Homo sapiens: one gene and its partners. The protein of the gene in region 3 purifies or fractionates together with the protein of the main gene of each other region. This does not show direct contact. Each region holds a gene or a part of one and is shown on either strand. Other genes may lie near its edges. The genes, in order: LMAN2L, C1QL1, CD1E and ITGA7.

Region 1 (7,023 bases), on a different chromosome or scaffold from region 3:
GTCTCAATTTTTACCATCTAAAATAAATTTTTTTTAATTAACATCTACAAAATCCTTACAAAATAAACCCAAGTCAGAATTTCTACTTTCTCAAACCAGAATTACTACTATCTCATGGTGAAATGGAAGCTAACAGAGTTTGAACAATTTGTTTCTGGAAGAAACAGAGAGACAAGTTTAAAACTCTTGTCAGGCCCTAAAGCTGATAACTCTTATTCAGATCCATTTCTAACTACCACTATTTCCTCAGCATGACTACAAATCCAGTCATGATCCTCTCTTCAATAAAATCCTTTAATGTACCTACCCCTTCAGAATCAAGTCCAGACTCCTCAACAGGAACACAATCCTTCAGAACTTGGCCCCAAGTGGTATATGGTGAGCATGAGTCACATACATTCAGTCTGCTCTGGCTCTCATCTAAACAGTTCAGCCACCAACCACCCAAGCAGATGCCAGTCAGTCTCAGCGGCTAGTTAACATGCCGAGGCTACAGTGTTAATATTGTAGAATGCAAGGTGAACAGCAGCCCTAGGAACTGTGCAACATAACAAGACTACTGGCCCTGCTTTTCATTCTAGCCTCATCTGTCTCTGATTCTACTTTATTTCCACACACTCATTATCCCCTCTCTCTCTCTTTTTTTTGAGATGGAGTTTCACTCTGTCGCCCAGGCTGGAGTGCAGTGGCGTGATCTCAGCTCACACTGCAACCTCCACCTTCCAGGTTCAAGCGATTCTCCTGCCTCAGCCTCCTGAGTAGCTGGGACTACAGAAGCATGCCACCACACCTGACTAATTTTTGTATTTTTAGTAGAGACGGGGTTTCGCCATGTTGGCCAGGATAGTCTCGGTCTCCTGACCTCGTGATCCACCCGCCTTGGCCTCCCAAAGTGCTGGGATTACAGGCATGAGCCACTGCACCCAGCCTCATCATCCCCTCTCTTAACCTTAGGACCTCGGCTTTTTTCCCTCTGCATGGGACACGGGTTCCTTACTCTGCAGACCTCAACCTAAAAGGCACTTCCTGGAAGAAGCCTTCCCCACTACCACCAACACTACTGCCCCACTTCAGGTTAGAAGCTCCTGCTGTGTCCTCCCATAGTGCCCCAGAGTTCCCCCATCAGCATTCTCAGTGCTACTGAGTACAAGGACCATGTTATCTTGCTCACTAATTCCCAGGGCCTGGCACCTAGAAAGTGGTTAATGTATGTGGAATGAAGAACAGCCCAGAAGGAACACAGAGAAGCAGCTGTAACTGATCCACAACAAAAGGTTATTCTCCTAACTCAGGTCTCACATTCCACCACCTTTAAAGTGAGCTCGCTGGGCACAGTGGCTCATACCTGTAACCCCACCACTTTGGGAGGCCAGGGTGGAGGAATCACCTGAGGTCAGGAGATGGAGACCATCCTGGCCAACATGGTGAAACCTTGTCTCTAAAAATACAAAAATTAGCTGGGCGTGGTGGCGTGTGCCTATAATCCCAGCTACTCAGGAGGCTGAGGCAGGAGAATGGCTTGAACCCAGGAGGTGTATGTAGGTTGCAGTGAGCCGAGATTGCACCACTGCACTCCAGCCTGGAGACGAGCGAGACTCCATCTCAAAAAATAAAAAAAATAAAAAATAAAAAGTGAGTTCTGTGGGAAATGTTAACAGCTGTTGAATCTAAGCATCACAGATACAATGATCATTCTCTATTCTTCTAATTTTTTTTGTTTATTTTGGTGACAGTCTTGCTCTGTTGCCCAGGCTGGAGTGCAGTGGTGTGATCTCAGCTCACTGCAACCTCCGCCTCCTGGGTTCAAGCCATTCTCCTGACTCAGCAACCTGAGTAGCTGGGATTACAGGCTGCAGTGCAATGGCGTGGTCTCAGCTCACTGCAACCTCCACCTCCCAGGTTCAAGTGACTCTCCCACCTCAGCCTCCCAAGTAGCTGGGACTACAGGTTAACACTAATACTAATAAAAATACTAATTTTTGTATTTTTAGTGGAGACAGGGTTTCATAATGTTGGCCAGGCTGGTCTCAAACTGCTAACCTCAAGTAATCTGCCCACCTCGGCCTCCCAAAGTGCTGGGATTACAGGCGTGAGCCACCATGCCTGGCCTTCTAATGTTTTTTAAGTTTGAAAATTTTCATAATAAACCTTTGAGGAAAAAAATAATGTGACCTTTGCCTCTATTTCTAATCCTGATTTCCTCGCTAGGTACTTAGCTACAGGATACCCAGCAACAACCTGTCATAATTTCCCACCATCTGATGGCAGTGCCGTAGGACATAGAGAGAGTACAAACCCACTGTCAATATAAGAAAGCAATAGCCGGGCATGGTGACTCACGCCTGTAATCCCAGCACTTTGGGAGGCCGAGACAGGCGGATCACGAGGTCAGGGGTTCGAGACCATCCTGACCAACATGGTGAAACCCCGTCTCTACTAAAAATACAAAAGTTAGCTGGGTGTGGTGGCATGCGCCTGTAGTCCCAGCTACGCGGGAGGCTGAGGCAGAAGAATAGCTTGAACCTGGGAGGCAGAGGTTGCAGTGAGCCGAGATCGCGCCACTGCACTCCAGCCTGGGCGACAGAGTGAGACTCTGTCTCAAAAAAAAAAAATTAAAAAAAAAAAAGAAAGCACTAAAAAACTCTTAGGTCAGGTAACAAAAAGGCCTGCCAACAGCCAGATACTAGGTTCCAACAAAATGCTGGGCTTTCATCAGTTTCCTTCTCGTTATAGCCTTTTCTTTCTTTCTTTTTTTTTTTTTTGAGACAAGAGTCTCACTCTGCTGCCCAGGGGGGAGTGCAATGGTGTGATTCTCTTGCCTCAGCCTCCCGAGTAGGTGGGATTACAGGCACCCACCACCACACCCATCTAATTTTTATATATTTAGTAGAGACGGGGTTTCACCATGTTGGCAAAGCTGGTCTCGAACTCCTGACCTCAGGTGATCTGCCCACCTCGGCCTCCCAAAGTGCTGGGCTTACAGGTGTTAGCCACCACACCTGGCCAATTATAGCCTTTTCTATAGGCGAGGAGAACTGTTCTTCAGGTCTGAGAAGAAGAAGAAGAAAAAGAAGCTGAAAAGTGTGTGCAAGTTGCAGAAGAGAGCACAGCACTGATGGATTAAAAGTCAGGGGAGGCTGAGTTACGTAAATTCAGCTTGCTCTGGTGCTGGTCTAGCAGCCAAATCACCAATCAACCAAACATGCTCAATTTTAGTGGCTATCTAATAGGCACAAGAGAGAACATGATTATCACTAAAGAAAAAGCCCCTGTTCAAGACAGCTATTCCCAAAAGACTGTGCACTCCTAAATAGTCCCTTTAGAAAAAAACACTGACAAGGACATTAACTTTCAAAGTTCAACAGATGAAGAACCCCTCACTTTCTATCTCCTTTGTTCCCTCCTGTACAACATTCCTGAGGCAAAGAACTGTGATGTCAGTGTAGCTGACCTAGGCTCTGACACTTGCCATTACCTCTTGCTGCTTCTCCTCATTGGGGTAGGTGTCTACAAATACTCCCAGCCCCACAAATTTGTCCATGTTTCCAAACACAGGCCCTAGAGAGAGAGAACAGATGATGAACAATGAAATAAAGCTAAGAGTTGATAAAGGAATAATATATCACTATGATGGAGGAAAAAGTAAAATTCAAATGACTCCCAAGCCTCTCTCAAGATGAGAAAACACATGTTTAAAAGTACCCAGCAAAGTGCATGGCCTGTAACAAGTGCCCAGTAAATATCTGTAATTGTTTGTTGTTGGAGGCAAGGGAAAGAGAGAAGGCCACTGCAACCTTATTTAGCACTCAGGCAGCTTCCTGATCCAAACTGGTTGCTAAGGTGCCCCTACAGAATTCTGCTTTACAAACAATTGGTAAAGACTATGCCCCCAAGAGAGAACTGAATTCCCTAGTTCTCCTTCTTGTTGCAAAAGAGATCAGGTCAAATCAGGTTGAGCCTGCCATCTACATGGAGCAATAATAGCTCTAACACAAGGAAAATAGATAACTCTTCTCTTGACTCAGCAGTGCTGAGATCATTCACTGTAAATGTTCAGAAGAAATCAGCTCACCCAATCGTCAGCGTTCAGGAGAGCCAGTGCTTTCATCCAGCCAACAGGCCAGGTAGTTTCACAAGGAAACTCAGAAAGAAGTAACAAGCAAGCAACTGCCTCAGGATGAGTCAAATTCAGCTGCTTATGAGGACTCAGACCCGTTCTAGAGACTAGAAGGGCCAGTGTTCATCCACATACATTAAGGGAGAGGGAAAACAGCTGGCACTGTGGGGAAGGAACCTTTTCAAAAAGAGGGCACATGAAAAATCAGGCTGTCACACCCACACAAGAGTAACACAGGCTCCCAATACCTGGCTGCATCCGATCCTTTGTGTACCAGATTGCCAAGCCATCCCCATGCAGATTCTTCTTTCCTTGTCCATGGATTTTGAAGTGCACCTGCAACTCCCAGTCTCTCAGGAAACATGGCTAAAGTGAGAAAGACATTAGAATCAATGAGGAGCATGAAATGCAAAACCCCTCAAGCCCACATCAGCAATCAACAGACTTGGAAAACACAAATGCAGGTAACACTAGACTAAGGGTTAAAACTTAAATCTAAGACTTGCTATGTGTTCATGTCATAAAATTAAACGGATTGAACCATTCAACTGTTTAGAGATTTAATATGAAAATGAATAAACCTCCCGATTATCTTCAACATTTCCCAACAGAAACAGGACAGAACTCCAAAGTTGGAAAAGACAAGAGTGTACCAAACTCCACTCCTGTGATCCTACACCCACCCAGCAAAGTAGCTCGGCTTTTAGAGTACAGATGGCTGAATTCATACTCATTTACAACTCAAGATCACCCCTCAGACAGAAAGACTCTGAAAAGCTGGATTTAAAGAAAGGTCAAAGCCTAATTTATTACAGTAGAAAAAGAAAAGCTAAGCTGTTATGCAAACGTTTCCAGGAATAATTAGCAGATACTACAAACAACTCTAATTAGCTAGACCTGGCCCTCTGCCAAGCTGAGGGGTAAGCCAGAATTCTCACAAGAAGAGCAAGTTACAGTCCCCAAACCCTCCCGTCCATGGCCAAGAAGCTTAAATGCACTTGAAGATGGATGCAAGTGGATGGTTAAGTGTTTTAAATAGTTGAACGGTTTCAAGAAAAAACCAGAGTGGGTAGTTGATTTAGGGAAGCTTCTGGTTAAAAGTCTACTGTGAAGAAAGAAGTGAAGGAAGAACAGACAGACCAGCTGGGTTCAGCCAAAGGCTCTCCAAATAGACTGTTCTGGGCAACTATTGCTAGATCATTTTCAGTTTTCATTCTTTATTTCTGGGATATTTTCCAACAGTGTTCATATTAGAAGTACACAGTCAAAATGAAAGGGGATTGGGTACTCCTGCATTGAGCAAGGGGCCTGAAATCTCCTACTCTATTGAGCCAGTCTCTGTCTTGTCACTCTGGATTCTTATCTCTCTGCTGTTTCATTACGATTTCAGAGAAACGGCCCAGCGCGGTGGCTCACGCCTGTAATCCCAGCACTTTGGGAGGCTGAGGTGGGCAGATCACAAGGTCAGGAGATCGAGACCATCCTGGCTAACACGGTGAAACCCCGTCTCTACTAAAAAATACAAAAAATTAGCCGGTGTGGTGGTGGGCGCCTGGAGTCCTAGCTACTCAGGAGGCTGAGGCAGGAGAATGGCGTGAACCCAGGAGGCAGAGCTTGCAGTGAGCTGAGATCATGCCACTACACTCCAGCCTGGGCGACAGAGCGAGACTCCATCTCAAAAAAAAAAAAAAAGATTTCAGAGAAAGGCCAGGCACAGTAGTTCACGCCAGTAATCAAAGCATTTTGAGAGGCTTTGGTGGAGGATCATTTGAGCCCAGGAGGTCCAGGCTGCAGTGAGCTGTGATAGTGCCACTGCACTCCAGCCTAGGCGACAGAGTGATGAGACCCTGTTTCAAAAAAATAGCTTTCAGAGAAAGAGTGAAATTCAGTGGGGCAGGAAGCTGCCAGGAGGTAGGTATTATGCCCCTGGGAAGAGGGCAGAGTCACAGAAGTTCCCAGTGAGCCAAGAGGTGTCTGTCACTGATTCCTGGCCTCCTACAGCACAATGCTATACTGTTTTGCTCAGGACCATGTCTAATTGTGGTTCTGAAATTCTGCCACACACTGGATTCACCTACGGAGTTTTAAAAAATCCCAATGGCCAAGCTGCACCCTATTCCAATTAGATCAGAATCTCTGGGGATGAGACCCAGGCATTGATTCCAATGGATAGCCAAATTTGAGAACCACTGCTGAAACAAATGCATCCTATTCAAATAACTCAGAAACAAGCCCATAGTCATGGTGATAGCCAGATAACAGCGAATACAGGTATCAGAAGTCGAAAAAGGGAAGAACTAGAGGCTATACTAGAACTGCTGCTACAAGTTATGTAGAGACAGACAGCCAGCAAGACAGCAGCAGAGTATCAAGCCTTGAACATAATCATCCGGTAACCCACAAGAGCCCCATCAACAAACCTGTAGAAGTGTAATAACATAACACATATTTCTATAACCATTTTAACTTGCCACAGTCTTTTCATGTCTATTGTCCTATTTTATTCTCACGACAACCCCAGTGGGCAAGTAAAACAGGTATTCTGAAGCTCATTTATCAGATAGAGAAACAGAACTAAGAAGTTAAATAATCTGCCTAGGGCTCACAGGAGGACTGTGACAGAGCTGGACCGAGAATCCCAGTCTTTCAACTGTCCTTTATCTCTGCTACGAAAACACAATGCTCTGTACTCTGTCCAAAAATGAGCTCGGCACTATGATCTAGGTTAAGGGGCCAGTTTGTGCAGATAGCTAATGTAGAAATTTCTCTTGCCCTCCTGAACAGGGAAAAGAAATCGTTCTCTTTTCTGAGATTCGCTTATCTACAACTAATGAGAAAAGCCACGTAAAAAAGTAAGTTCTTAGTTTAAGAGAATTCCAGAGAAAGTATCAAAGGATGCCAGAGTC
Region 2 (6,134 bases), on a different chromosome or scaffold from region 3:
ATACAAACATTAGGCCAGGCACGGTGGCTCACGCCTGTAATCCCAGCACTTTGGGAGGCCGAGGCAAGTGGATCATGAGGTCAGGAGATCAAGACCATCCTGGCTAACACGGTGAAACCCCATCTCTACTAAAAATACAAAAAATTAGCTGGGCGTGGTGGCAGGCACCTGTAGTCCCAGCTACTTGGGAGGCTAAGGCGGGAGAATGGCGTGAACCCGGGAGGCGGAGCTTGCAGTGAGCTGAGATCGCGCCACTGCACTACAGCCTGGGTGACAGAGCGAGACTCCGTCTCAAAAAAAAAAAAAAATACAAACATTAGCTGGGCGTGATGGTGCATACCTGTAATCCCAGTTAGTCAGGAGGCTGAGGCAAGAGAATAACTTGAACCCAGGAGGCAGAGGTTGCAATGAGGTGAGATCTCGCCACTGTACTCTAGCCTGGGCAACAGAGTGAGACTCTGTCTCAAAAAAAAAAGAAAAGAAAAGAAAAGATAAAAACGAAAAGAAAAGAAAACCAGGAGAAATAGTGGGGCCCGTAGCCCCCTCTCCCATGTCCTTTATGACTTCTTCCAAATTGCCCAAGAGACTCATTTGATCTCACTAGCCATCCCACTTGTTAGTTTTGAGCCCCTACTAGGAGCCAGATTTGAGGCTTTGTAGGAGTTCAGTCCACTTGCCCTCCAAGACCTCATGGCCTATGCAGGGGGAACATTCATAACATACAACCACACGCCCCAGCGAATACTGTGTTAAAGGTGGGCTGGGAGCCCAGCTGATGACTTTGGTCCCCAAATGTGTTGGCTGGGAGGGAGTGCTTCAGTAGGGCCTACCCTGGTGCAGACCAACCTGATGCAGGGGGAGAAGATGGTGAACCTTGGTCTGCAAAGTGAGGAGATACCACAAGGGAGAATATAAAAGGTCAAGTGTAGGGGAAAGCCAGCTCAGAGGTGGACAAGGACATTTAAATAAGCAGAGAAAAAAATGGCAGGACCAGACAATGTATGGGAACAAAAGAGAGAAGCTTGTATCTCTTGTGACTTCAGAACCAGGGGCCACCCTGAGCACTGCGCTTTTCCTTCCTGGCTTCCTGCCTGTAGAGAGGCTTCCAGAATTTCTTTAGGGAGGCAGAGCTGAATCTGGGCTCTGCCTCCTCTCCGGGCAAGTTCGGGATGGGGAGCACCACCTTCATGCCTGGCACTGAGGCTCCCTCTGTCCTTATCTGAGGCCCACTGGCCCCAGTCCTTAGGGGTAGCCTTGCATCAGCACCCCTGATGGCACCAAGTCCTGGCCATTAGGATGCAAGGAGCCTGGGGAAAGGACTCTGGGTTGGCAGTGGGGCCCTGGGTGTGGTGAGTTGCCTGCAGCTGCCTCCAAGATCCACAGTTCAGGTGGGTTGGAGAGGACACAAAATTAATAAACTGGGCAGGGGGCTTTGTGAGGATGTGCCAGGGCCTGTGGTCAGGGTGCTGCTTATCCAGGGTAGGAGGCTGTGGGGAGGTGAGTATCACCAATGGGCCAGGGGTTTGACAACAGAATCTGAGTGTGGCGAGAGGTGCTGGCATATATAAATTGAAGGTGGTGGTATAAAGACCTAAGAAGGCTGTGCACAGTGGCTCACGCCTGTAATCCCAGCACTTTGGGAGGCTGAGGCGGGCGGATCACCAGAGGTCAGGAGTTCGAGACCAGCCTGTCTAACATGGTGAAACCCTGTCTCTACTAAAAATACAAAAAAACATAGCCGGGTGTGGTGGTGGGTGCCTGTAATTCCAGTTACTCGGGAGGCTGAGGTAGGAGAATCACTTGAACCTGGGAAGTGGAAGTTGCAGTGAGCCAAGATCGCACCACTGCACTCCATCCTGGGTGACAGAGCAAGACTCTGTCTCAAAAAAGAAAAAAGACCTAAGGAGATCAGCCTCTCCCCTGGTGGTGGCAGATGGCCCCCTGGCTATCCTTTCTGGCCCCTAATACCTTTCACAACACAGAGCACAGTGCCTGGCACAGTGGGAATGCAGTTAATGTATGTATGAAAATGCAAGTGTCCCCCATGGGCCAGGCTGGCTCCCCTATGGGAGCCACATCTGTACACCCAAGACCCCAGCATTGATCTGAGGGCAGGAACGTGTTTCCTGGATGCCCTCTCACCCAGTTCCCTTGGTCAGACCATTGCCTCAGTTTCCCCTCCTGGCAGCCCTTGAGGAGCTGATTATACAGCGCTCCCTCATAACAAGGCCCAAACCTGCTTTCCTGCTTCCTTGGCAACCTCATTTCCCCACACTTCCCCTTGGACCCCAGGAGGAGCTGCAGGCCTCAACTGTCTCCAGTCAGGCAGAGAATTGGGACCCCTGGGTTCCATTCTTGGATCCCCCACCATCTAAGGATGGAAGGGCATAAATTCTCTCTGCCTCCATGGATAATTAGGATAATTACGGCAACAATCATGGTGATGAATAAATAATAAACATAAGCATAACAGTTCTGATGCAGTCACATCACCAGGAGATTCCTGATGACAGATGACTCTGTTCCAATGGATTTGGCTATTAAGGAGCACACTGTTTTAATGAGTTAAGGCTAAATTAATCTGGGCAATAAAAATAATTGTTATTAGTAGTAATTTATTAGCAAAGATAATGAAATGCATGTGTAATAATAAATATTACCAGGATTAGGGCTCAGGGAACAATACAGAAGTTGGCTGTTTGCTTTCAGCTCTTCCCTAATAACTCAAAGCCCCATCAAGATCTAATGTTTTTTTTTCTTTATCATCAAAAGACTTTTACAGAGGTGGCAGTGGTGAGGCAAAGTCTTCTCATCCATTTTCTAGACAGAGAAACTGAGCTCCTTGGCAGACAGCATCTCCCCCTTCATTTATTCCCTCCCACCTTTAACTAGACCAGTTTTCCCAGCTAAGCACACAAAGAGTTTCTTCTCAGGTTGGGAAGAAGAGGTTGAGGGAAAAGAAGGGGCTGGAGAAGGGCTTTAAAGGGAGGCCCTCATGCAAATATGTCGGGTCCTCTTCATTGCAGCATCGCGGCTGAGTCAGCAGCTCTGGCACAGCTGACCTGCAGTGCTGCCTCCAGCCCAGGAGAGAGGATGGGCCCCTCCCCTAATTTGGCTTGGTTCTACCCAGACTTCAGCCCTGGGAGTTGGGATGGTAAGCTGCCTTCAGTGAAGGGACAGGATAGAGAGGGGCCGTGGAGAAACCTGGCTGAGAGAACTCCACTCAGTGCAGCCTCCCCACACCACAAGCCACAGTCCTGGAGAGGGCGCTTCTCTTCCATGTCTCTACCCAGGATACCCTGGAGAGGCCCCGATCCTCAAACTCAGGACTTATGTTTCCATACCTGTTAGCTGAATGTCTGTAGATCATTCGTTCACCACCACACAATCTCTCTCTCTCTCTCTCTCTCTCTTTTTTTTTTTTTTTTTTTGAGACGGAGTCTCGCTCTGTCGCCCAGGCCGGACTGCGGACTGCAGTGGCGCAATCTCGGCTCACTGCAAGCTCCGCTTCCCGGGTTCACGCCATTCTCCTGCCTCAGCCTCCCCAGTAGCTGGGACTACAGGCGCCCGCCACCGCGCCCGGCTAATTTTTTGTATTTTTAGTAGAGACGGGGTTTCACCTTGTTAGCCAGGATGGTCTCGATCTCCTGACCTCATGATCCACCCGCCTCGGCCTCCCAAAGTGCTGGGATTACAGGCGTGAGCCACCGCGCCTGGCCTTTTTTTTTTTTTGAGACTGAGTCTCACTATGTCGCCCAGGCTGGAGCGCAGTGGCATGATCTCGGCTCACTGCAGCCTCCATTTCCCAGGTTCAAGTGATTCTCCTGCCTCAGCCTCCCCAGGAGCTGGGATTACAGGCGTGCCACTATGCCTAGCTAATTTTTGTATTTTTAGTAGAGATGGGGGTCTCACCATATTGGCCAGGCTGTTCTCGAACTCCTGACCTCAAATGATCCACCTGCCTGGGCCTCCCAAAGTGCTGGGATCACAGGCATGAGCCACCGTATGCAGCCACCACACAATCTCTTATGATTATAGTCAGAGCCCCCAAAAGTGACGGCAGGCTCCAAGCCCAAATGCTGGTGCTCCCTTGACCCATTATCCTGCCTGTCCCTCCCCATCCCCCATCAAGGCAGGGACCAGCAAGGATGTCACATCAGACTGAGAATCCCAGAGGGAAGTAAGGCCTGGATTCCCTTCTTCCCACCCAGTTCCTTTCTACCACCCTGAGGTGAGACAGGAGGAGCTACAATCCTCTTTGGGTGGGTAGTGACAGGTACATAGCTACAGCTCCATGGAGGCTGGCACCCAGGCCCCTTCTAAACTCTGGGAGGGGAAAGCATTACCAGGCCTTCTGTCTCACTGCTGCAGCAGGAGAGACTCTGGAATGCACTTCAGACCAAAGACCTGGCCCTGGTTCCAGGGTGGTTGCTGACTGGCAGCCTGGCATTGGTCCAGCTGCCTGACCTGTGGGGCCAAGGTGTGCCCTTGTGTCCATCCACTGACATAAGATCCAGCGGGTGTGGCTGAAACGATGGCATCATTATGAAAGCAGAGAGGAAGGAATGATGAGAGTAGGGAAGGCCCTCCATTCCCTGGAGGTCCAGAGAATTCCTCTTTGCAAGGACAGGCTTCCAGGCTTCCTGGAGGTATTGAGGTTCTCAGCCAGCTGGAGGGAAAGCCCTATAAGAGTTAAGGAGGAAGACTCTGCCTTGACTCCCAATTCAGGCCCAGATCAGACCTGCCCTAGAAATCCAGGGATCCTCTCTGCCCCTTTCCTGAAACAAGTCCTGTATGATTGGAAGGGGGCGGGGGAGGGGGAGCGTGGCAGGGATGAGGCGAGGCTGGAGGCCAGGTTTCTGGGTCTGCTGATCCTCCCCCACGGGACTGCCTCACCTCCCTCCCTTCTCATCCTCTCTCTCCTCTCGCCCTCCCTCCCGTGTCCCCCACCCGCAGGTGCGGGCCAGTGCTATTGCCCAGGACGCGGACCAGAACTACGACTACGCCAGCAACAGCGTGATCCTGCACCTGGACGCCGGCGACGAGGTCTTCATCAAGCTGGATGGAGGCAAAGCACACGGCGGCAACAGCAACAAATACAGCACGTTCTCTGGCTTCATCATCTACTCCGACTGAGCTCCCCACGTCTCCCTCCACCCACGTCCCTCACCCGCCGGGGTCCCCTCCGGGCGGGGCAGACGATGACTCGCCCCTCGCCCACCCGCTCGCTGCCCGGCCCTCCCCGGCTATGACGCCCCCGGCCCGTGCTCAACACCGCCTGGGCCACAGCTAGGCCCTCCCACCGGCTCGCTGCAGAGCCGGGCCCAGCGCGCCCTGTCCCCGTGCCAGGGAACCGGGGTTGACCGCCCCCGCCCAGCCCGCGCTATATATTTGTACAATAGGACTGTTTACTGCCCACCTCCGCCTGCCAGCCCACCCCAGCCTGGGGAGAGGTCGCGGCGGCGGGTTTGCTTCCTGCGCTCTGAGATGAGCTGCCCTCCGCTCCCTCCGGGGTGGCGCGCCCGGGGGAGGGGGGAGTTGGGGGCTGGATAGCTTCCCAGCACCCTCAGAGCCCCCGCCCGGCTGTGCCCCGTCTGACCAAAGTTATAATAAAAACATTTTCACCCCGCAGGGGTTTCAGTCTGTGCCCTGGGGAGGGCTGCGGGAGGCGACGGTGGACCGTGCCCTCCTCCAGATTAGGAAGGGGTCTGGTGGAAGTTTCTAGGGGAAACCAGGTGCCAGAGCCAGAGCTACTCCAAGAAGAAGTTGCCAAAGGGCCTAAAGCCCACCACAACCCAAGTGGGCCTGGGCAGCTGGGATGGGAAGCAGCCCAGTTACTTCATCATCTTCCATGGTGGACACATTCCTTTTTTTTTTTTTTTTTTTTTTAGACGGAGTCTCGCTCTGTTGCCAGGCTGGAGTGCAATGGCAAGATCTCGGCTCCCTGCAACCTCCGCCTCCCGGGTTCAAGCGATTCTCCTGCCTCAGCCTCCCGAGTAGCTGGGAATACAGGCGCACACCACCACGCCCAGCTAATTTTTGTATTTTTAGTAGAGATGGGGTTTCACCATGTTGGCCAGGCTGGTCTCAATCTCCTGACCTCATGATCCGCCTGCCTCAGCCTCCCAAAGTGC
Region 3 (7,390 bases):
GCAAGGTCTGTGAGGACTGCCAGCACGCTGTCACCTCTCAATGCCACTGCACTCCAGCCTGGGTGACAGAGTGAGAATCCGTCTCAAAAAGAAAAAAAAAAGAAAAAATGTAACTATGTGAAGTGATGGATATGGTAATAACTTGACTGTGGCGATTACTTCACAGTATATACATATATCATAACATCATGTTGTGCACCTTAAGTATACCCAATTTAAAAAAAATTAAGGTAGAATATAAATATATAATTTATCATCTTCACCATTTTAAAATGTACAGCTCAGTGGCAATAAATACTTTTTTATACTCAATTTTTATTTGTTGGTTGTACCTCACTAAAGCTGAAAAATATATTTGAATAAATGTTAAAGAAATGTAAGTATACACAAACAAGAAAATAAGTATGTAGAAATTGCAATCTTTCCTGAAAATAAGCCAAAAGAATAAAACTCGTATTTAAATTCTTTGAAAAAAAATTAGCAGATGGAACATTTTCTTACATTTGTACAAATGTACTCAAAAATTTTATTTTAAATCAATTTTAATGAGTTATCTCCCATAAATTTCTTACATAGAAAGATTAAGTTGTCCAAAGGCACATCTTATAATATGTTTTGAGAGAATTTTCTGGTTTTGGCAAAAGGGGATCTGCGAATGTGACTGGGGCAGCCTCAGGAAAACATAAGAGGGGGAATTTCTTTTTAAAAGAGACCTCTGGCCACAGACACTAAGTATTTTTAGTAAAAAATGTGGTTAGGCACTGATGGAATATTTTTTTTTTTTTTTTTTTTGAGACGGAGTCTTTCTCTGTTGCCCAGGCTGGAGTGCAGTGGCACAATCTTGGCTCACTGCAACCTCTGCCTCCCAGGTTCAAGCGATTCTCTTGCCTCAGCTTCTCGAATAGCTGGGACCATAGGCACGTGCCACCACGCCCTGCTAATTTTTTTGTATTTTTAGTAGAGAGGGGTTTCACCGTGTTAGCCAGGATGGTCTCGATCTCCTGACCTCCTGATCTGCCTGCCTCGGCCTCCCAAAGTGCTGGGATTACAGGAGTGAGCCACTGTGCCTGGCCCACTGATGGAATTTTGTAAAGCAGGAAGGAAATAATTGTACCATATAATGTTACAAAAATTAAAATTAATATATATTTTTTCTTTGGAATTTATCTTCTGGATAATTTTAATTTAGAAGGAATTTCATTATTTTGTTAATGATTATGGGGTTGCTGTCAGACATTATTTCTACTTTGCTCAGTAATTTGCAGTTATCTGTGAGTTCTGTAGCCTCAAAATTAAAAACTAGGGTGTGGTTATCTTTACTTACATAAAAGTGCAATTTTTTGTGGAATAACAACATTGTTTTATTCTCTAAATATACTTTGCTTTATTTTACTTTGCAAATGATTTTAAAATTCTCCCTCTTTTTTTTTTTTTTGAAACAGAGTCACACTCTCCTGCCCAGGATGTAGTACAGTGGCACAATCTCAGTTCCCTGCAATCTCCACCTCCTAGGCTCAAGCAATTCTCCTGCCTCAGCCTCCTGAGTAGCTGGAATTACAGGCACACATCATGGCACCTGGCTAATTTTTACTTTTTTTGGTAGAGACAGGGTTTCGCCATGTTGGCAAGGCTGGTCTCGAATTCGCCTGCCTTGGCTTCCCAAAGTGCTGGGATTACGGGTGTGAGCCACCGTGCCTGGCCTGATTCAAAAATTCTAATGGCCGGGGCACGGTTGCTCACGCCTGTAATCTCAGCACTTTGGGAGGCCGAGGCGGGTGGATCACGAGGTCAGGAGATCGAGACCGTCTTGGTCAACATGAAGAAACCCTGTCTCTACTAAAAATACAAAAAATAGATGGTCATGGTGGCTCTTGCCTGTAATCCCAGCTGCTCAGGAGGCTGAGGCAGGAGAGTCGTTTGAACCAGGGATTCGGGGGTTGCAATGAGCCGAGATCCTGTGGCTGCACTGCAGCCTGGGCAACAGAGCAAGACAGCAAGACTCCGTCTCAGGAAAAAACAAAACAAAACAAAAATTCTAAGGAATACAGTTACTTGTAGTATTGATGTTTGGCATAGGTCATTCCAATCTTTTTATTATGTATTATTGTTTTTGTAGGTTATTATATATTCTCTTGAATATTTATCTTTGTTTACTGTTCATAATTTTATTATGAAACCAATTTTGGATTTACATAGCGATTTATAGATAGATTTACATAGCAACTTATAGCTTTGAATGTATTTGTAGAAAAGAAAGAGTATTGAAAATAAATGTAGACATTCTACTCAGGAAACAAGGAAACTTTTTTTAATCTTTCTTTAACCTTAGAATTTAGAAATGATAATAAGATGAAACTAGGTTTGGACCTTTTTCTTTTGTTTTTTTGTTTGCAGTTTTTTTTTCTTTTTTTAATTATTTTTATTTATTTATTTATTTTTTATTATTATACTTTAAGTTCTAGGGTACATGTGCACAACGTGAAGGTTTGTTACATATGTATACATGTGTCGTGTTGGTGTGCTGCACCCATTAACTCGTCATTTACATTAGGTATATCTCTTAATGCTATCCCTCCCCCCTCCCCCCACCCCACAACAGGCCCCGGTGTGTGATGTTCCTCTTCCTGTGTCCATGTGTTCTCATTGTTCAATTCCCACCTATGAGTGAGAACATGCGGTGTTTGGTTTTTTGTCCTTGTGATAGTTTGCTGAGAATGATGGTTTCCAGCTTCATCCATGTCCCTACAAAGGACATGAACTCATCATTTTTTATGGCTGCATAGTATTTCATGGTGTATATGTGCCACATTTTCTTAATCCAGTCTATCATTGTTGGACATTTGGGTTGGTTCCAAGTCTTTGTTATTGTGAATAGTGCCACAATAAACATACGTGTGCATGTGTCTTTATAGCAACATGATTTATAATCCTTTGTGTATATACCCAGTAATGGGATGGCTGGGTCAAATGGTATTTCTAGTTCTAGATCCCTGAGGAATCGCCACCCTGACTTCCACAATGGTTGAACTAGTTTACAGTCCCACCAACAGTGTAAAAGTGTTCCTATTTCTCCACATCCTCTCCAGCACCTCTCCAGCACAGAAAGAGTATTGAAAATAAATGTAGATATTCTACTCAGGAAACAAGGAAACTTTTTATCTTTCTTTTAACTTAGAATTTAGAAATGATAATAAGATGAAACTAGGTTTGGACCTTTTTCAATAATTCTGACCACCGTTCAGTAAATTTACTGTATAAGAAAAGTAGAGGTTTGGGGTTGAATTTTGTTTTATTTTTTCCCAAAGATGTCTATCTCTGATATCTTAGGGCCTGGCAATTGTTTTTGGTCATAGGTGGGCTCTGAATAAATGTCAGTTGAACAAATATATAAAAACCAAACAAAGGAATGTTATTTCAACTGCCTTCAGAGTGTCACAACAAATATCAATGAAAAAGAAACAAAAATAAAGACTCAATTAATTCTCCAGTGAACACTTCAGTCCTCTAAAGGTACTTCCCTGTGTCCACCCAAACTGCTCTCTAACCGAACGCAAGCAAGGGGACTCCAATGCTCTCAGGCCATGAACTAATGAGGAGCTTCATGCCTGCCCTCAGTCTTTCTTCATACCCAGGGCAAAGCTGGCCCACAGACTTCCAGACATGCTTTCTTCGTTTGGGTAGAGATGGGGATCCAAGTCCCCTATGTATTTCCTCCAGAGCCACCTGTAAAACATGGGTGAAATCTACCTGCCCTCTAGCTCACCACTTCCAGGTCAAGCCCACTCATGGACCACTTTAACAGTGACAGTTGGCTTGACTGGGGAAACTGAAAAAAAGGAGCTTTCTTTAGATTTTCTGATAATCTGCATTGCCATTGCTGCTCCTTTTTCAGCAGCACAGAGAGTTGGATTATGGAGGGTTGCCTGCTTATTATGCAGCTACATCCAGGATGCTGAGTGTCTTCTGATCATGATCAAGAGCAGAGTGAAGAGATACAGGCGGAGGAGAGGATCACAGAGAGGTAGAAGTGGGAGACTGGTGGATAGGTCACTAGGCACCACTGAGTGACTACCATCACTTCTCACAGATTAGATTATTGACAAGCCAAGTATGGATTTGATTTCTACAAGGCCAAAAGCTACTCCATCTTCTAGCCAGACCACAGACTTTGTTTTAAGCCAGGACTCGTTTTCCAGCAGTTAGTGCAATTAGGGAGGTTGGGAGGATGTACACAAGAGCAGGGAGAAAATCTGGAGCCAGACAGTGAGAGAGGCAGAGGGGAAATGAAAAACCCCGTGGGAGGCTGCAGCAAAGCGAGGCAGTGTGGCTTCTCTGACAGGGAAGTCAGCAGAGGGAGAGGTTTGTCTGTCTGTACAGCAAGGGAAGTCAGACGAGAGTGCAAGAGGGTGTGGAGAGGGGTACTGATATCTGAATTATTAGGGCAGGTGTCCTGCCAAGGAATCCCTCCTTTAACAGAGCTTCAATGCTGCTCCTGTTCCTCCTCTTCGAGGGTCTCTGCTGTCCTGGGGAAAATACAGCAGGTAAGAAGAGTGCAGGTGGAAAGATACCTATGGTAGGGCACCAGAGGGCTGAGAGGAAGCTCTGGGGAGGTCCTGGGGGAAGGGAGCAGTACTCTTCTAGGATGCCCTTGGAATATGCCTTTCAGGCTAGTTCCAGGCAGAGAATTCTTGCTCTCAGTCTCAGTTTTTGTCTCTGATTTTGGAGAAAGGAAGCTGGCCCCACAGGAAAAGGGTATTGGAGTATGTACAAGCTACCTAACTGTCTCTCATCTCTGGGTTCCTTTTTTCCCTTTGGCATCACTTTTCCCATCCCTTTACATTCTCTCTACTTGTCATTTCCCTCTCTCTCAGCTCCCCAGGCTCTACAATCCTATCATCTAGCAGCAGAGGAGCAGCTGTCCTTCCGCATGCTCCAAACTTCCTCCTTTGCCAACCACAGCTGGGCACACAGTGAGGGCTCAGGATGGCTGGGTGACCTGCAGACTCATGGCTGGGACACTGTCTTGGGCACCATCCGCTTTCTGAAGCCCTGGTCCCATGGAAACTTCAGCAAGCAGGAGCTGAAAAACTTACAGTCACTGTTCCAGTTATACTTCCATAGTTTTATCCAGATAGTGCAAGCTTCTGCTGGTCAATTTCAGCTTGAATGTAAGTTCGTTGCTCTAAGCTGATAATTTGCCTGGGAACACCAACTATTTTCCAAAGTGGAAGATAGTATATAGACTCTGACCATCATTTAACCTTACTAACCTTGTTCCCCACTCTCTGACTCCCACTCCCTCCTCTGCTTCACCCTTCACCACCACCCACACTCCACCATATACACAAAAGGGCCTGCATGTACATATCTCAACATGAATATAGCTTCATGTCTGGCTCTTTGGAATGATTGTCTCCTCTGGATCTTCTGCCCCTCATTCCTGCCCTCAGACTCAGCCTTTCTCAACCCTCTTTCTGCCCTTCTTTATCCTTTGCCTGAGTGTTGACATGGACTGGCCTGTACCTAACCACTTTCACGTGAATTATTTATGACCAATCTCCTATCTTCCTGATAGCCTTCCCATCTACCACTTTCCCATTAGTTATTTCAAAGTATCTTTATTATCTTCAAATTTTCTTCCCACAAATTTTCTTCCCCTTTGCCAGTAAACTCTAGTCTCCATATGATTTCCCAGCAAATTTTTCTTCCCTTGAATCTCTTTACTGTCTAAATTGTTTGTTTTTCTTCCTTGTCATTCTTTCCATAATGATCTCTCTTCCCTGTCCACTCTCAGACCCCTTCGAGATCCAGATATTAGCTGGCTGTAGAATGAATGCCCCACAAATCTTCTTAAATATGGCATATCAAGGGTCAGATTTCCTGAGTTTCCAAGGAATTTCCTGGGAGCCATCTCCAGGAGCAGGGATCCGGGCCCAGAACATCTGTAAAGTGCTCAATCGCTACCTAGATATTAAGGAAATACTGCAAAGCCTTCTTGGTCACACCTGCCCTCGATTTCTAGCGGGGCTCATGGAAGCAGGGGAGTCAGAACTGAAACGGAAAGGTGAGCCCAACTCTCTCTCTCCCCTCTTGTTCCTAGTACTATAACTCTCATATTTGAATTTGCCTCTCATCATCATTTTGAAAGACATAGTGAGAGACTAGAGAATGAGATGTGTGGGTTCAGGACTGTTTCTTAGACAAGAGAAAGAAGTGATTACTAAATCACTCTTAGTATTATTACAAAGGCACCTGAGTCTCTGAGCTCTGGCCTGGGGTGCCCTTCAAAATTCCATTTTTTTTCTATCTTCTTCTTCCTAGTGAAGCCAGAGGCCTGGCTGTCCTGTGGCCCCAGTCCTGGCCCTGGCCGTCTGCAGCTTGTGTGCCATGTCTCAGGATTCTACCCAAAGCCCGTGTGGGTGATGTGGATGCGGGGTGAGCAGGAGCAGCGGGGCACTCAGCGAGGGGACGTCCTGCCTAATGCTGACGAGACATGGTATCTCCGAGCAACCCTGGATGTGGCGGCTGGGGAGGCAGCTGGCCTGTCCTGTCGGGTGAAACACAGCAGTCTAGGGGGCCATGATCTAATCATCCATTGGGGTGAGAAACAGCTGAGGCTCTGCTGGGAAATAATGAAAATAGCCCTGGGGCTTTTGAGTGTGGGGCTGAGGAAATGGGTAGGAATGCTAGGTACAAGAAGGGTAAAACTGGGACAATCAAAATAAAGAAGGATAGAGTATGACAGTAGTTAAATTTTAAGAAAATGGAAGTAGAGAATTAGACATACTAACAGAAAAAGGAGGAGGAACTAGTGATTTAGTGGGAGAGGGTTGGGAGGAGATCACAGACAAAGGATCAGGAGGAATTGAAATGAGGGCTTTGGAAAACCCAGATGAAAATTCTAGGAAGGTCCCACCCTTGTGAAATGGGAAATCTCAGCTTGGTGGAATAGAGTATTTTAGGGTTGGTATTCTTATTCTATCCCCAACCAGGTGGATATTCCATCTTTCTCATCCTGATCTGTTTGACTGTGATAGTTACCCTGGTCATATTGGTTGTAGTTGACTCACGGTTAAAAAAACAGAGGTGAGCTTTTTCTTGTTCTTTGTTTCTTCAGCCTGTAATCAATTCATTCCTTTTTCCTCTATCTTCTTTTTTTTTTTCTCTGCCTTTCCCCTTTATTTCCTTTCTTTGAGATTAATATCCTCCTCTTTTCCCACAGTTCAAATAAGAACATTCTTTCTCCCCACACACCCAGCCCTGTCTTTCTCATGGGAGCCAACACTCAGGACACCAAGAATTCAAGACATCAGTTCTGCTTGGCACAAGTATCGTGGATCAAAAACAGAGTATTGAAGAAGTGGAAGACACGCCTAAACCAACTCTGGTG
Region 4 (7,960 bases), on a different chromosome or scaffold from region 3:
ACTGGCTGTTCCTTTGCCCTAGAGCTGAGCAGAGGACATGGGGTATCTGTATCTAGTGTCCCCATCTGATCTCTCTAGGGTTATCCTCCATCTGTTCTTTTTCTGGGCCTTTATTGTTCACTGTCTAACCTTAGTTTCTGCTGCAGTTGAAGCTCAGCTTCACTTGTCCTTGGTAGAGATGGACACAAGTCGCATACATATCTATCTGGAGAATGACTCTTGAAATTTGAAGTCTCTTTCTGCTCACCTCTCCTTACGATTTCCTACTCAGATTATTTTCCCTTGGACTGAATGAATGCAACTCCACACTCCTTTCTTCACTCATTTCCCTCTTCTTTTGAGGTCTCTTTCAGAGTTAGCTTTAATTAGCAAGCTCCAAACTGACTGGCTGGGCCAAACAGGGCTGGAAGCTGCTGAGTTGTTAGGGGTTGGATGAGGGCTGAGGGAGGACACAGAGTGAGTAGACAAGGCTTCACATACTGGGAGATCTGGCTGGGCTTCAAGAGAGGGGGTTGGTGGTGGTGTGGCTAAGTTCCAAATGTTGGCCTGAAGCCAGTGCTCAAAGAAAGGGGGCCCTTGAGACAGTCCAAATGGCTCCCTTTGGTAAGTGACCTCCCAGTCCTTCTCAAGTGTTAAGGGTTTCTTTTGGATCGTCAAAGACCGGAGCGGTCAAGCTGTTTCCCCACTGAATTCCCTCAATCACATTTATGTTCTTTTCCTCCCAGCCACTCCCATGGTTCAAGCTTTGACTACAACCAGAATTCAGAGGCAGGCAGAAGGATTCCAGTGCTGGAGAGGTGAGTGAAGTAAAAAAGTTCTCATGGTGTGCATGTTGGGACGGAAAAGCCTGACCTTGGGACATAAGCTCCAAGGCTCTGTTGCCAGATGAGGTGGAGGGAGAAGTTAGCCCTGAAGTGTGTGTTCTGGAAGTGTTTGCTTGTAAGCTAGAGACAACAGTTGCAAAAAGTGTGATTTGAGGGAGCTGAAAAATACTGATCTCAAAGTGGGGAAGAAGATGTTGAAAAGGGAAGGAGCTGGAGAAAGCCTCAGCTTCCACTCATACAAAAGCTAAAGGGCTAAAATCTTGGCTGGATCTGGACATTTCTCAACGTCTAAAATTTTGGAAATTTTTATAAAGATTATTAATCTTTCATTTTTACATTTAATTTATTTAAAAAGTTCAGTTTCTCAGTCATACTAGCCACATTTCTTTTTCTTTTTCTTTTTTTTTGAGACAGAGTCTCACTCTGTTGCCCAGGCTGAAGTACAGTGTATTAATCTATTCCATGGAGTGGAGTGGATAATCTATTCCATGGATTATCATTTTACTTTGTTAGTGGTATCCTTAGAAGCACAAAATTTTTAAATTTTTTTTTTTTTTTGAGGCAGAGTCTCACTGTGTCCCCCAGGCTGGAGTGCAGTGGTGCTATCTCTGCTCACTGCAGGCTCCGCCTTCTGGGTTCAAGCGATTCTTGTGCCTCAGCCTCCTGAGTAGCTGGGATTACAGGTGTGTACCACCACGCCCAGCTGATTTTTGTATTTTTAGTAGAGATGGGTTTTTGTCATATTGGCCAGGCTGGTCTCAAACTCCTGACCTCAAGTGATCCACCTCCCTCCCTCCCAAAGTGCTGGGATTACCATGTCTGGCTTGGAAATTATTTTGAAATAATTATAGATCAGAGGAAGTTGTAAAAATAGCACATGAAGTCTTGTGTACCTTTCACTCAGTTTCCCCTAATGGTGACATCTTATGTAACTGTAGCATAAAATCAAAACCAAAAAGTTGATATTGGTACAGTATTGTTAACTGGCCTGCAGACCTCACTCAGTTTTCACCATTTTTTACATGCATTTATTTGTTTGTTTGTAGTTCTGTGCAGTTTTATATCTTGTATAGATTTGGATAATCACCACCACAATCAAGATACAAAACCCATCACCACAAAGGAACCCCCTTGTGCTATTCCTTTATGTTTGTCCCCACCCCCCTCCATCCTTGTCCCCTGGCAGCCAGTAATCTGGTCTTCATTTCTATAGTTTTGTCATTTTGAGAATGGTATGCGAGTGGAATAATACAGTTTCAGCATTTTTTGTTTGGAGACAGGGTCTCACTCTATCACCCAGGCTGGAGTGCAGTGGCAAGATCATGGCTCACTGCAGCCTTCACCTCCTGGGCTCAAGTGACACTCCCGCCTAGCCTCCTGAGTAGCTGGGACCACAGATTTGGCTAACTTTTCTATTTTTTGTAGAGATGGGGGTCTCCCTATGTTGCCCAGGCTGGTCTCCAACTCCTGGGCTCAAGTGATCCTCCTGCCTTGGCCTCTCAAAGTGCTGGGATTGCAGGCATGAGCCACTGTGCCCAGCTCAGCATTAATTTTTAATTTAACTAATTCCTAAGCTCTTGACTGAAATACAAGAAGTTCTCTAACAGTTTATTTATTTTAATATTGAGCTTACCGCATTCTCTGGATCCTTCTAGTTTCTTTTTTTTTTCTTTTTTTCTGATGTGGAGTCTCTGTCACCCAGGCTGGAGTGCAGTGGTGCCATCTCAGCTCACTGCAACCTCCGTCTCCTGGGTTTAAGTGATTCTTGTGCCTCAGTCTCTGGAGTAGCTGGGATTACAGGTACCCGCCACCACACCCGGCTAATTTTTGTATTTTTAGTAGAGACAGGGTTTCACCGTGTTGGTCCGGCTGGTCTTGAACTTCTGATCTCAGGTGATCCGCCTGCTTCGGCCTCCCAAAGTGCTGGGATTATAGGCGTGAGCCACCGCGCCCGGCCCCGTCTAGTTTCTTAATTTCCCTCTTCACCTACGATATTATCTTCCACTCCAACATTCTGGTCTCATTTCTCCTTGAGAGAAATCTACATGTCTAAATTTACTAGGCTGGTCTAGCACGCTCTTGTGTGTTCCCCTCCCTCCTTTGCCCCTCTATTTATAGCCAGGCTAATTTTGGGTGGCCTCTCTCTCTCTTCTTTCCTGATCTTTCCTCCTGTGGTGGTGAGGTGACTTCTCAAATATTTGGAGAGAGGAGGTCAGAAGCAGATTCTTGGCATCTGATTTCAGCCCTGGATCACAGAAGCCAGTGGAGTGGGAATGGAGACAGGCAGAAGCTGCAGGTGCAGATAGGAGGCAGCTTGGGCTCTAAAGGCATTTTGAGCTGGGTCGGGGGCGGGGGGACCTGGGCAGGGAGTCAGTAGTCCCAGTTCTGTCCTAATTTTGCAATTCTGCATTCCCATGTCAGCTCTTCTCTACTGTCTGGGGCTCTGAGATATTAAAAAGGATGGGGAGGGCATGGTGAAAGTAGAATCCTGGTGCCAGCCCTGCTGACAGCATATGTATTTCCTTATAGTACCTGTTTAGAGATGTGTTAGTGCTCTGGAGGGGATAGCCACAGGTGTAGTATTGGAAAACAGAGGGCCAGACTTCCAAATGTCTGTTAACTTATCCAAGGCAAAGACTGTCCCAGGGCAGCAGAGTAAGAACCCACTTTTTTTTTGTTTTCAAAGAAGTATAATCCTGAACAATGAAGTAGGAAAGACAGAACACAGGAAGAGGAAGGAGGTAGGACACTTATTGGAACTTTTAAGAAAGGGAAAGAGAAGAAAGAATCGTAAGAATATGATAGTGTTTGAAGGGCAGAGACAACACTAGAAACATTGAGAAATACTCTGAGAAAGATTCCAAGTGTGGCAGAGACAAGAATGATGACAAAATAGAATTTGGGATGAGACAAAATCAGATAGTGAGAGAGAGAAGGGAAGATGGACAGATGTATATTCACAAGACCAACACCAGTAAGCAAGGGGAGTAGGAAGGGGAAGTGGGAGCATTCGAGGTTCCCATTATGCCAAATTATTTCCTGTCTCTCCTTCTGGCCCCATTTCTGTATCGGAGTTATAAATAGCAGAGAGTTGGAAAGTGTCCCCCCACCCCCTTGCCTCTGTCCCAGCCTGAGGGAAAGGGAGAGGAAGAGGGACAGGCCAATGGGTCCCTGTGGAGATCCCATCTCAGCCCCACCCAGGTCCTGCTGAGCCAGTCCAGGACTCTGCCCCCTCCCATCCCCTTTCATGGATAGGAAATGTGCAGTCCTGGGACGGGTCTGGTAGCTGGGGACACCCTTTACATCCCTCTGCCTCTTGGGTCCAGTCTCTTTCATCTTTGCCTTCTTTGACACCCACTCCCCTCCCCACTGCTTAATTTCCTCTTCCTGTAATCATCCCCAGTCGTTTTCTTTTCTCCCTTCATTCCATCCCTTGTCAATTAATCTCTTGCCCTTCTTTCTTCCTCTCTATTCCTTTCCTTTTTCCATTTCTCCATTTGCTCCCCGTATCTCCCGAGTTTCTCTCTCTCTTCTTGCCTCTTTTTCTCTGTTCCCTTGAATCCTGACGATGTGGCTAGCACTGCTGTGGTCATTGCCGGGCTGGGGGCGGGGGATGGGATAGGATGGGGGAGGGCAGCGGTCTGATCCCAACAGCAGAAAGAGTGCTCTATGTGACCATGGGGGAACAGGGAGCACTAAGATGCCACGCTGCACCCAGGCCCAGGACGGCTCCCCTTTCATTTCCTCTCTATCTGCACATCTCTCTTCCCAGGTTGTCTTTTAGCGTCTTCCCAACTTCTCATCTCTTACCCTCCTTCCTCTGTTTCAGCCCCTCTCTTTCTATCTGTACTTCTCTCCCTCCGCATTCCAAGGCGCCGCCTCCACCACTCCCGGGGTGGGGATGGGGTTGGGGGAGAAGGGGAGGAGAGCGCCGCGCAGGGGCGGAGCCGGAGACGGTGCTGGGCTTGGGGGGCGTGGTGGTGGGGGGTCAGCAAGGCTAGTTTCCATCCCAGCCACCAGCCTGGGCATCCCCTTGGAGACGGGCTTGGGTCTCCACCTGCCGCGGGAGCGAGGGGCGGGGCCGGAGGCGGGGCCTGAGTGGCGTCCCCGGGAGAGGAGGCGGGAGCCGGAGTGGGCGCCGGAGCTGCGGCTGCTGTAGTTGTCCTAGCCGGTGCTGGGGCGGCGGGGTGGCGGAGCGGCGGGCGGGCGGGAGGGCTGGCGGGGCGAACGTCTGGGAGACGTCTGAAAGACCAACGAGACTTTGGAGACCAGAGACGCGCCTGGGGGGACCTGGGGCTTGGGGCGTGCGAGATTTCCCTTGCATTCGCTGGGAGCTCGCGCAGGGATCGTCCCATGGCCGGGGCTCGGAGCCGCGACCCTTGGGGGGCCTCCGGGATTTGCTACCTTTTTGGCTCCCTGCTCGTCGAACTGCTCTTCTCACGGGCTGTCGCCTTCAATCTGGACGTGATGGGTGCCTTGCGCAAGGAGGGCGAGCCAGGCAGCCTCTTCGGCTTCTCTGTGGCCCTGCACCGGCAGTTGCAGCCCCGACCCCAGAGCTGGTGAGTCACCGCACCCGCCCAGAGTCGCCATGCCCGAGCCACAGATCGTCCCCCTCCCCACTCTGTGGGCCTCCTCATTTCTCTGTTTTCTAGCCCCACCAAGACCTAGACTGCCCACAGACATCCCACATCCCAACCTGGAGCCTTGCCTCATCTGGCTTGCGTCTGAAGCTGCACTTCCCGGCCCTGAGACCAGTATTTTGCTTTAGGGATGAGTTGGAAAGCAAGGTTCTTGTCTTGGCAGCGAACCATCTCCTTCTTCTGGGCCTTTCCCCCAACTTGCATCCTTGATCCAGCCCCAGGGCCTCTGGCTCCCCTGCTTCTTCCAAGGGCTGAATTCCCCAAGGGAGGGAGACTGTCTGTCTCTGCTTAGAATGGGAGGAGATGGAAAGGACATAGAAGTTGAGGGTGCCATGAGAGGGATGCATGCAGGGCAGACTCCAGAAATAACTTCCTGCTAGAGCATTGCCATGGATGGAATGAGGGCAGCAGGGCACTGGAAGGCCAGGAGAGAGCTTCCACTTCTGTGGCTTAAGACCACGGGAAGATTGGGAGAGGATCTGCAGGTCTGCCAACCTGCAGTAGGTGGCTTGGTGATAGAGAGTGGCAGCAAACTGAACCCTCAAAGTACTAGTAGCAGTAGTAGTAGCCGCAGCAGCTGTAGCAGTGAGAGAGATCCAGGAAGGATGCTGGCCAGGCTGCTCCCCTTCCTCCTCCTTAGCAAATTTCCAACTCCAGGAATCTCAGCAGCTGGGAAGGGCCAGGAGGAGTAAGGGGTGGAGGACAATTCTAATTTTTTCTAATCAGTTCAGGACCCATGGGAGATGGATATACTTTTGTGAGGGGCCTGTGACTGGTCATGTTGCCTGTATCCTTGGCTCTTGCTACATGTCTGATTGTAAAAAGGGAGGCCAGAGGTGAAGAAAGCTTCTCACCTGCTCCTGCTAGGGGGCTTTTCTCTCTTCAACCAGTGCCTAAGCCACATTAAGTATCCATTACTGGGATCAATGCTGTCCACTGGGACTGTCTTCTGCCTCTACTGTCGGTCTGGGGGCAGGGGGCAGGGACAAGAGCTCATTTCTCCTCACTTGCTTGGGGAGTGGGGGCCTAGCTCTAATCTTTCTTCTTCCATTATCCCTATCATCTGGTAGCAGGGTCGGTGGTCCCCAAAACTTTGGGAGAGATAGAAAGCAACGGACTTCATCTCCTCTTCTGTTTACCATCTGCTTCCTCATTCACCTTTGCTCCCTCCCTCCCTTCCTCCCTCCTTCTCCATCTGTCAGAGTTCGAGGACTGGAGGCCTTTTTAGGACATGCTGAACTCTCTAAGCTATTTCCAGGCAAATTCTAGGTTATTTTTAATAGCTTGGTCTCTTGTCATTTCCCCCTCCTCTCTGAAGGTGGCCCCTGGTTCCGTCTCCCAGAGCCAAGCTGGGGCCTTTCCCAGAGGGCCTGACTGCCTCACCCTGCTTTTGCTCCAGCAGGGGGTGCTCTGCTGCTGGGGGGCGGGGGGTATGTGAGAGGCCAGGCACCTGCTCAGTCCCTAGCTTTTGAGTTGCAGGTGGCCTGCCTTAGCACTCACTGATGAAAAAAACTTCTTGCCTGTTTTGATGTCTTTTAGTCTAGCTCTGGGATGAGACTTTAAGGTCTAACCTTTGCTGTGTGGTTCCAGCCTCATTTACTTCCCTCAACTGTAAAAAGGATATAAACATAGTATTACTACATAGGGTTGTTGTGCAGATTAAGAGTTCTTAATATATATAAAATGCTTAGAATAGTGCATAGCCCGCAGTGAGTGCTGTGAAGTGTTAGTAGTATTGCTATTCTTGTATTGTGATTCACAGAGCGCCTTACAGAGATTCTGGATCCAAAGGCTTGGCTAGAGGGCCTCCCTGGCTGAGCCAGCCTTCCAGGCCAAGCATCCTCCCCAGAGGGCCACCCAGATTGAGAGGGGCCAAAGAGGGGCTGGACTTGGGCTGGGGCCCTGGAGTGTGTGGAGAATCGAGAAGTGCAGTGGTCGTGGGCTACTCCTTTGTCTTCACTTAGCTGAGCTCCCAGGGGGTCCCTCTGCCCCCCAGCTGCCAACACTTTTTTTTTTTTTTTTTTGCTTTTCTCTCTGCAGTGGCTACACTGTGGCTGTCCAGAAGACTGGGGTGGTTAGGGCGTATGGCATGAAGCCAGGAAGGAGTGTGTGTGGCTGGACCAGAGGTGGAGGGACTAGAGAGGATGCTGCTGGGTGCTCTTGTTCCACTAAGGATCGATTGGTCTCTTCTCCACCAAGAGCGGACTGGGCATATCTATGCACTCAGCTTCTTTCTTCCACATGGGCCCCTCCCCTCCTCCCTACTTTTGGCCTCCAGAGGAGATGTGAACATAGAACAAGGATAACTTATCTGGGTGCTTAGCTATGCACTGACCAGCTGTGACACTGGGTATCTCTATGAGTCCACAAAATGTGTGTGTTCAGTAAACACATTCTGACACTCCCTATGGGGCAAGCACAAAGATGAAAAGACAGCCCCGACACTCAGAGAGATGGCCACTTCTATGTTTGGAGGCTGGGGGTACTGCTGACTTG

The links.
Region 1: the proteins of CD1E (region 3) and LMAN2L purify together in Homo sapiens (affinity purification with mass spectrometry; 2 studies listed by BioGRID and IntAct, with this or other methods). This does not show direct contact.
Region 2: the proteins of CD1E (region 3) and C1QL1 purify together in Homo sapiens (affinity purification with mass spectrometry; 2 studies listed by BioGRID and IntAct, with this or other methods). This does not show direct contact.
Region 4: the proteins of CD1E (region 3) and ITGA7 purify together in Homo sapiens (affinity purification with mass spectrometry; 2 studies listed by BioGRID and IntAct, with this or other methods). This does not show direct contact.

Annotation. Positions count from the first base shown.
Region 1 is NC_000002.12:96,730,044-96,737,066, forward strand, and holds part of LMAN2L (VIP36-like protein isoform 2 precursor), read right to left. Parts: intron 4,484-7,023; coding exon 4,366-4,483; intron 3,559-4,365; coding exon 3,476-3,558; intron 1-3,475. UniProt on the Homo sapiens protein: May be involved in the regulation of export from the endoplasmic reticulum of a subset of glycoproteins. May function as a regulator of ERGIC-53.
Region 2 is NC_000017.11:44,959,190-44,965,323, reverse strand, and holds the end of C1QL1 (C1q-related factor precursor), read left to right. Parts: intron 1-4,956; coding exon 4,957-5,136; 3' UTR 5,137-5,631; downstream 5,632-6,134. UniProt on the Homo sapiens protein: May regulate the number of excitatory synapses that are formed on hippocampus neurons. Has no effect on inhibitory synapses.
Region 3 is NC_000001.11:158,349,506-158,356,895, forward strand, and holds the start of CD1E (T-cell surface glycoprotein CD1e, membrane-associated isoform a precursor), read left to right. Parts: upstream 1-4,388; 5' UTR 4,389-4,483; coding exon 4,484-4,541; intron 4,542-4,871; coding exon 4,872-5,168; intron 5,169-5,794; coding exon 5,795-6,064; intron 6,065-6,321; coding exon 6,322-6,600; intron 6,601-6,992; coding exon 6,993-7,086; intron 7,087-7,222; coding exon 7,223-7,390. UniProt on the Homo sapiens protein: T-cell surface glycoprotein CD1e, soluble binds diacetylated lipids, including phosphatidyl inositides and diacylated sulfoglycolipids, and is required for the presentation of glycolipid antigens on the cell surface. The membrane-associated form is not active.
Region 4 is NC_000012.12:55,704,900-55,712,859, reverse strand, and holds the start of ITGA7 (integrin alpha-7 isoform 2 precursor), read left to right. Parts: upstream 1-4,955; 5' UTR 4,956-5,177; coding exon 5,178-5,383; intron 5,384-7,960. UniProt on the Homo sapiens protein: Integrin alpha-7/beta-1 is the primary laminin receptor on skeletal myoblasts and adult myofibers.